Linked DNA regions of Homo sapiens: region 1 is linked to region 2. The links come from fine-mapping of genetic effects on gene expression. A gene starts in region 2. The other region holds a variant in brackets. All regions are shown on one strand. Distances are between the middles of the regions.

Region 1 (2,910 bases), 33 kb after region 2:
TCCAAGTCATTCTTGATCCATTTGTCTCCCTCAGTCCTCACTGGCAGTCAATATCCCGAGTCCTATCAAAATAGCTCTTAAAACTTCTGCCTCTTCTCCACTCCCTCAGCCACCACCCAGCTCTGGGCTCTTAACATCATTGGCCTTTGCAGGATCTTCACACCCTCTGTCCTTGCCCTCGTCTTTTTTCTCTAGAAGCCATCCTGTGTTCATTCATTCATTCATTCATTCACTTGGTCAGCCAAATCACAAGCCAGTACTAAGCACCTGCTCCCTCCAGTGCCCATGCAGGTTCCTGGGGTTGCAGAGGATTGTGAAGTTTGGCCATGCAGGCATCTGAACCTCACAGACAGGGAAGAGTTTCGCAGCTGCATTCTAGGTGGCCCAGCCTGCTAACGCCTTTGTGACCATGTTTGCCACACTTCCTGTCTCCCCAACCACAGAATGATCCTCTCCTCTCCAAGCTGCACATCTCTCCTTAGCCCTGGGACTTTGTCTTTGCCCATTGCAGGCCACAACCTTACTCAGAGAGAGAAGGAAACTCCTTTTATTTTATGGAGGCCCATGCAAAGTGGGTACCCTTTTGTTTTTCAGTTGGCCTGTTTTGGTTATTAAGCCACTTCACAGAAAGGAGTAAAAAGTCCAGAAGGATTTGACATCTGGTCACATCTGATCTGATGGCGCCCTGCCTCTGTGGTTCTTCACTGCTTACAAGTAAAGTGGAGACCCCATAGCATGGTGGACACACCCTTTTTCATCAGGCCTCTGAGTCTTCCCAGCCTCACTCCTTGGCACAGTTTCTTCTTTCCCTAAATGCCCAAAGGGCTTGAGGAGTAATGGCTGGGTCACCTCTTGGTGGCAGGAAGGTTTCCTTACTCTGCAGTCTTATGTAAAAACTTTCTAGTGGCCACCAGAGTCACAACGAAGAGGGCTATTAAATAGGTGTGGACTTGTACCTATTAATAAAGTGCAGTATCCCAGTGCCTCACTCATCTGCAGAGGTGGTATCACTGATAGTGGTCTGAGCCAGGGCTGGGTACCACTTTGTGGATACCCCACCTCATATGTCTCTGAACTTTATGCTGCACTGGAACAATTTACTTCTACTTCTCCAAATGAAGCCTTGCCACTTCCAAATTGCCAGGATCCAGGCAAGCCCCAGGGTGTGCTTGACATACACCTGCCTTCAACTCTGCCACCCTGAAGGCCCAGCTCTACGACAGAGCCTTCACTCCCCCTATCTCATGGGCCATGTGGAGTCAAGGAGGCCCAGCCTTTCTGTCCCCAATTGCTCTGTCATCAGGGTGAGTTTCTTACCATAAGCTTTGCTAATTGAGATTCCTAAAATTGGGACACATTTTAAAATTCTTTAAATATTTAATGAAGGCCAAGAATTTTAGGTCTTTGGGAAATTTTTCAATTAACTACTAATAATTTCCCGCCAAATTAAATTTGACATAATTTGAAAACAAAACGCTCACCTCTTGCTGGGTTTCCTTTACCAAATCCACTTTCTCTGCAGTCCCAGCTACTCAGGAGGCTGAGCTGGGAGAATCGCTTGACCCCAGGAGGTGGAGATTGCAGTGAGCCAAGATTGCACCACTGCACTCCAACCTGGGCAACAGAGAGAGACCCTGTCTCAAATAA[G/GCAAA]CAAACAAACAAACAAACAAACAAACAAATAAAAGCCTTCATTTTCTCAATGTTGCCTCTGTTATTTTAAATCACTTTGCCTATATATCTACCTGCAGCATATGGGGTGTTTTTACATTTTTCCACTTACGTAGATCTTGTCTTTCTACATCCACAGAAAGCACCTCAAATGCAGGAATGCCATTCTTGTCATTCTTGTTGAGTGAAAATAATTTATATTGAATGACAGAGTAAGCCTCCTCAGCCAAAGACTTGTGAATAACTGGTGATATTTGAAGGCTTTGTAGGTGAACACCTCTTTAAGAGACAAATTTAACTTTATTTATGGATATTCTGATATCAACAACCATCTCTTTTTGGAATGATGCTAAGATAATAAATGATTAGAACATATTTTTATTTGTTTTAAAGCAGAATTATTAGCTCAACTGCATGTGTAGAAAAAATACTGGGCCTATGATTTGTTGTATAGTTTATTCAGGGAGAGAGATGCTTCCCTTAATGATATCCTAATTTTAAAATTTATACTGTTTTCATTAGAGCAAAAATGAACACTTATTTTCAATATTTATTTCATATTTAAAGTTGGAAAATATAATGTAGTCTCAGCATTCAAGGAGTGGGCTATAACTATCCTATAATTTAGAAATAATATCAAAGACTTGGAACCAACCCAAATACCCATCAATGTTAGACTAGATAAAGAAAATGTGGCACATATACACCATGGAATACTATGCAGCCATAAAAAAGAATGAGTTTATGTCCTTTGTAGGGACATGGATGAAGCTGGAAACCATCATTCTCAGCAAACTAACACAAGAACAGAAAACCAACCACCACATGTTCTCACTCATAAGTGGGAGTTGAACAATGAGAACGCATGGACACAGGGAAGGGAACATCACACACTGGGGCCTGCCAGGGGGTGGGGGGCTAGGGGAGGGATAGCATTAAGAGAAATATCTAATGTAGATGATGGGTTGATGGGTGCAGCAAACCACCACAGCACGTGTATATCTATGTAACAAACCTGCACGTTCTGCACATGTACCCCAGAACTTAAAGTATAATAATAAATAATAATAATAACTTTTTTAAAAAGAAATAATGTGCAATGAATACAACACACTCAGGATTTAAGTAATCTGAGTATATGCATGTGTTGTGTTGTGGTTGCAGTTATATCATTCCCAATGGCATATTGTATATTTATTTTAACATACAACTGTTTAAATCACACAGCTAAGTATTCCTTTCCTT
Region 2 (2,910 bases):
TTAATACTCCACAGTCAGCTCAAGATCAACCAATCCTAAAATGAATTGATCATCTCTCCTCACTCAGGACTGGATTCCCAGTGGCCCAAACCAGAAACCTCTCTCTCTGAGTTGAAATGCTTCTCTACAGCTCCCACCTGTCTTCCACCCTTTCCATGACCACTCCCGCTGCCTTAGCTGAGTCAGGATCATCTCTTTCCAGGATGATAACAGTAGCTTCCTCCTCTCCCTGCCTTCCCTCTGGCCCTACCCTTTCTGTTGTCTAAGTGGGCTTTCTAAAGCATATGCCTGATGATGCTCCTCCCTAGCTTTACATTGATTGATAGTTCCCACAGTCCTCAATATCAATGACAAATTCCTTAAAATGAGTGCTATGGCTTCAGAGTACTCCTCTACCTTGTCCTTGAACCCCAGCATTATTCTTTTCTTGTCCTTATGCCCTTCATTCAGGAATGTTATCTCCCACTTTCACCTGGCTCAATCTTAATCATCCTTGAAATGCAGTTCAAATGGAAAGACGCTATACATTTTTTTAGTTCCTTTCTTTTTTCTTGATTTCATACTTTATCACTATATTTTTAGAGACAGGGTCTCGCCATGTCACCCAGGCTGGATGGAGTGCAGTGGCATGATCATAGCTCACTGCAACCTCTAACTCCTGGGCTCAAGCGATCCTCCCACTTCAGCCTCAGGAGTAGCTGGGACTACAGGTGTGTGAGCCTCGCTCATTCCATATTATAGATCCTAACATTACATAACTATAAACCCAATTAACCTTATTCTTGAAGAAGCGAAACCCCCCAGACACCCAAACCACTCGGCTGGTGGTATTGCCAGGCGATGGGAGGAGCAGTCTCACTGCAATGTGACCTTGAGGCTATGTCCATGAGTCCTAGGCCCAATGCAAGGGGCTGTCTACTAGTCTCCTAGACTCTTCACTGGGAATGGGAGCTGAGGAGCGGCCATGATGAATAGCTAGTATCATTTCTTCAGGAAAAGACTCGTCTTTCCACTTTTAATTTGGAGGAAGAAGTTTGCAATTTTGTCGAGGGGCAATGTAGGCGGGGCAAACGTTTGCACAGCAAACGCAGCAGCTCTGCTTTTCCTATCTTGACCTTGAACTTGCCCCTCCCTGTGTGATTACCTGTTGAACACTGAAGTTAGTGGAGAAACACACTTCTCAGCACAGTCTCCCCCCATCCCCCCTCTTAAAACACGATGCCTCCCAGGATGCTAGTGGCACCACTGCCACTGCATTTCCTGTTGGCAGCAGTGAGCAGTGAAAACCGAAGCGGCAGAAGGCAGTGGCAGCAGGCAGTGGCAGCAGGCAGTGGCCCAGGCAGAAATAGCTCCCGCGCGATTCACTGGAGCCTTCCCCGGGCCCTGGTCCCGGCTACCGGGACTCGCGCGTCCGGATCTCAAAAGCGGCAGAGGCCACCGAAGGGACAGGAAGCACTTTGGTCCAGACCACACTCCCGGCACAGTGCGGAAAGAGCCGGCGGGAGCCACTCTGATCCCGGACGCCTCAGCGCCCCCTTGGGCTTGGGCTTGCCCTCGGGCCGGGGAAGGCTGACCGCGATGCCAGGACGCGCTCCCCTCCGCACCGTCCCGGGCGCCCTGGGTGCCTGGCTGCTGGGCGGCCTCTGGGCCTGGACCCTGTGCGGCCTGTGCAGCCTGGGGGCGGTGGGAGCCCCGCGCCCGTGCCAGGCGCCGCAGCAGTGGGAGGGGCGCCAGGTTATGTACCAGCAAAGTAGCGGGCGCAACAGCCGCGCCCTGCTCTCCTACGACGGGCTCAACCAGCGCGTGCGGGTGCTGGACGAGAGGAAGGCGCTGATCCCCTGCAAGAGGTACAGGTCATCGGCCCGCGGGGCGGGAGTAGGGAGCCGCGCGGGCATGGGGAGGGCGAGGTCGCAGAGGCCTGCGCCCTGTAACTCTTTCCGGCCCCTTGCAGCTCCTCCCTTCTCCCAGAGAGATCTTTCGCGAGGAGGGTCTCTTGGGGATAGCATGGTCCGGGACTGGGAGGGGCGCTGCGCCCACCGAGGGCGGCCTGCTGGCGGGGGACTCAGTAACACCCAGCGAGGCGGTGGCAGGTAAAGAAGGGACCCATCCAGGGCGGGATCAAGCTGCAGAGTGCCCCATGCCCAGGTTCGCCCCTGTTCTCACGCTGCTGAGTCAGGCTCTGGGCTCATGGAGCCCCCTGCAGTCTAGGGCGTGTCTTCTGCGCTATCTCATTTCTTTCTAGAGACATCTGCTAGAGAGGCACGCAGAATATGTATTTTCTAAGAAATACTTTTTGTATTTTAAAAGAATATGGCAAGATTACAAACGGTATGGGAAAGTGATAAAAAGAAAATTTCACCCACAAACTTAGCAAATTGTTACAGCATTAAAATTTTGGTCTACTCCTTTTAAGTTTTTTGTTTATTTTAAAGCAAATTTTACATACTATGATCAAAAGCCATACGTTATCTGAATCTTTTTTTAACTTAACATTGTCCCTTATATGTTCTTATTTGCCATTTTATTAGCTTGCCTCCTATTTTTAATGGCTGCACAGTATCGCTTACAGGGGCAAAGCTGTAAGTTTCTTTTAAGTATTGGTCTGACCATTCACCTTTTCACATCTGTTGTGACAAAGGAAACCCTCTTTTTGAGATGTCATCTCGCTTGTGGCCCCTTTAAGACCTGATTTCTAATTTGGGATCACCACCTGTCTCCCTTCCAGAGCCCTGCCGTTCCCCCTAAGTGTGTTCCTCTCACTGGCCTCTCTTTATGGCATTTGCATCATTAGGAGTTGCAAAGTGAATTTCCATGGTTTGAAACGCCAATGGACTGTAAGATCTATAGCAAAAGGGCACCATTAGTTTATAGAACAAAACCAAACTTGATAATATCATTTATTCTAAAAGC

Evidence for each region. PIP is the estimated chance that this variant, and not a neighbour inherited with it, causes the effect.
Region 1: its variant is fine-mapped to the expression of EPDR1 in prefrontal cortex (CommonMind, PIP 0.95).

Annotation. Positions count from the first base shown.
Region 1 is chr7:37,952,021-37,954,930 of GRCh38, forward strand. No RefSeq gene overlaps it. Among named protein-coding and RNA genes, the nearest start is that of EPDR1, 33 kb to the left of the region's middle. The variant G/GCAAA (reference allele first, on the strand shown) is at 1,648.
Region 2 is chr7:37,919,362-37,922,271 of GRCh38, forward strand. EPDR1 (ependymin related 1) reads left to right here and starts at 1,279. Exons shown (of 3, transcript NM_017549.5): 1 at 1,279-1,847. The coding sequence starts at 1,579. RefSeq lists a silencer at 1,524-1,973.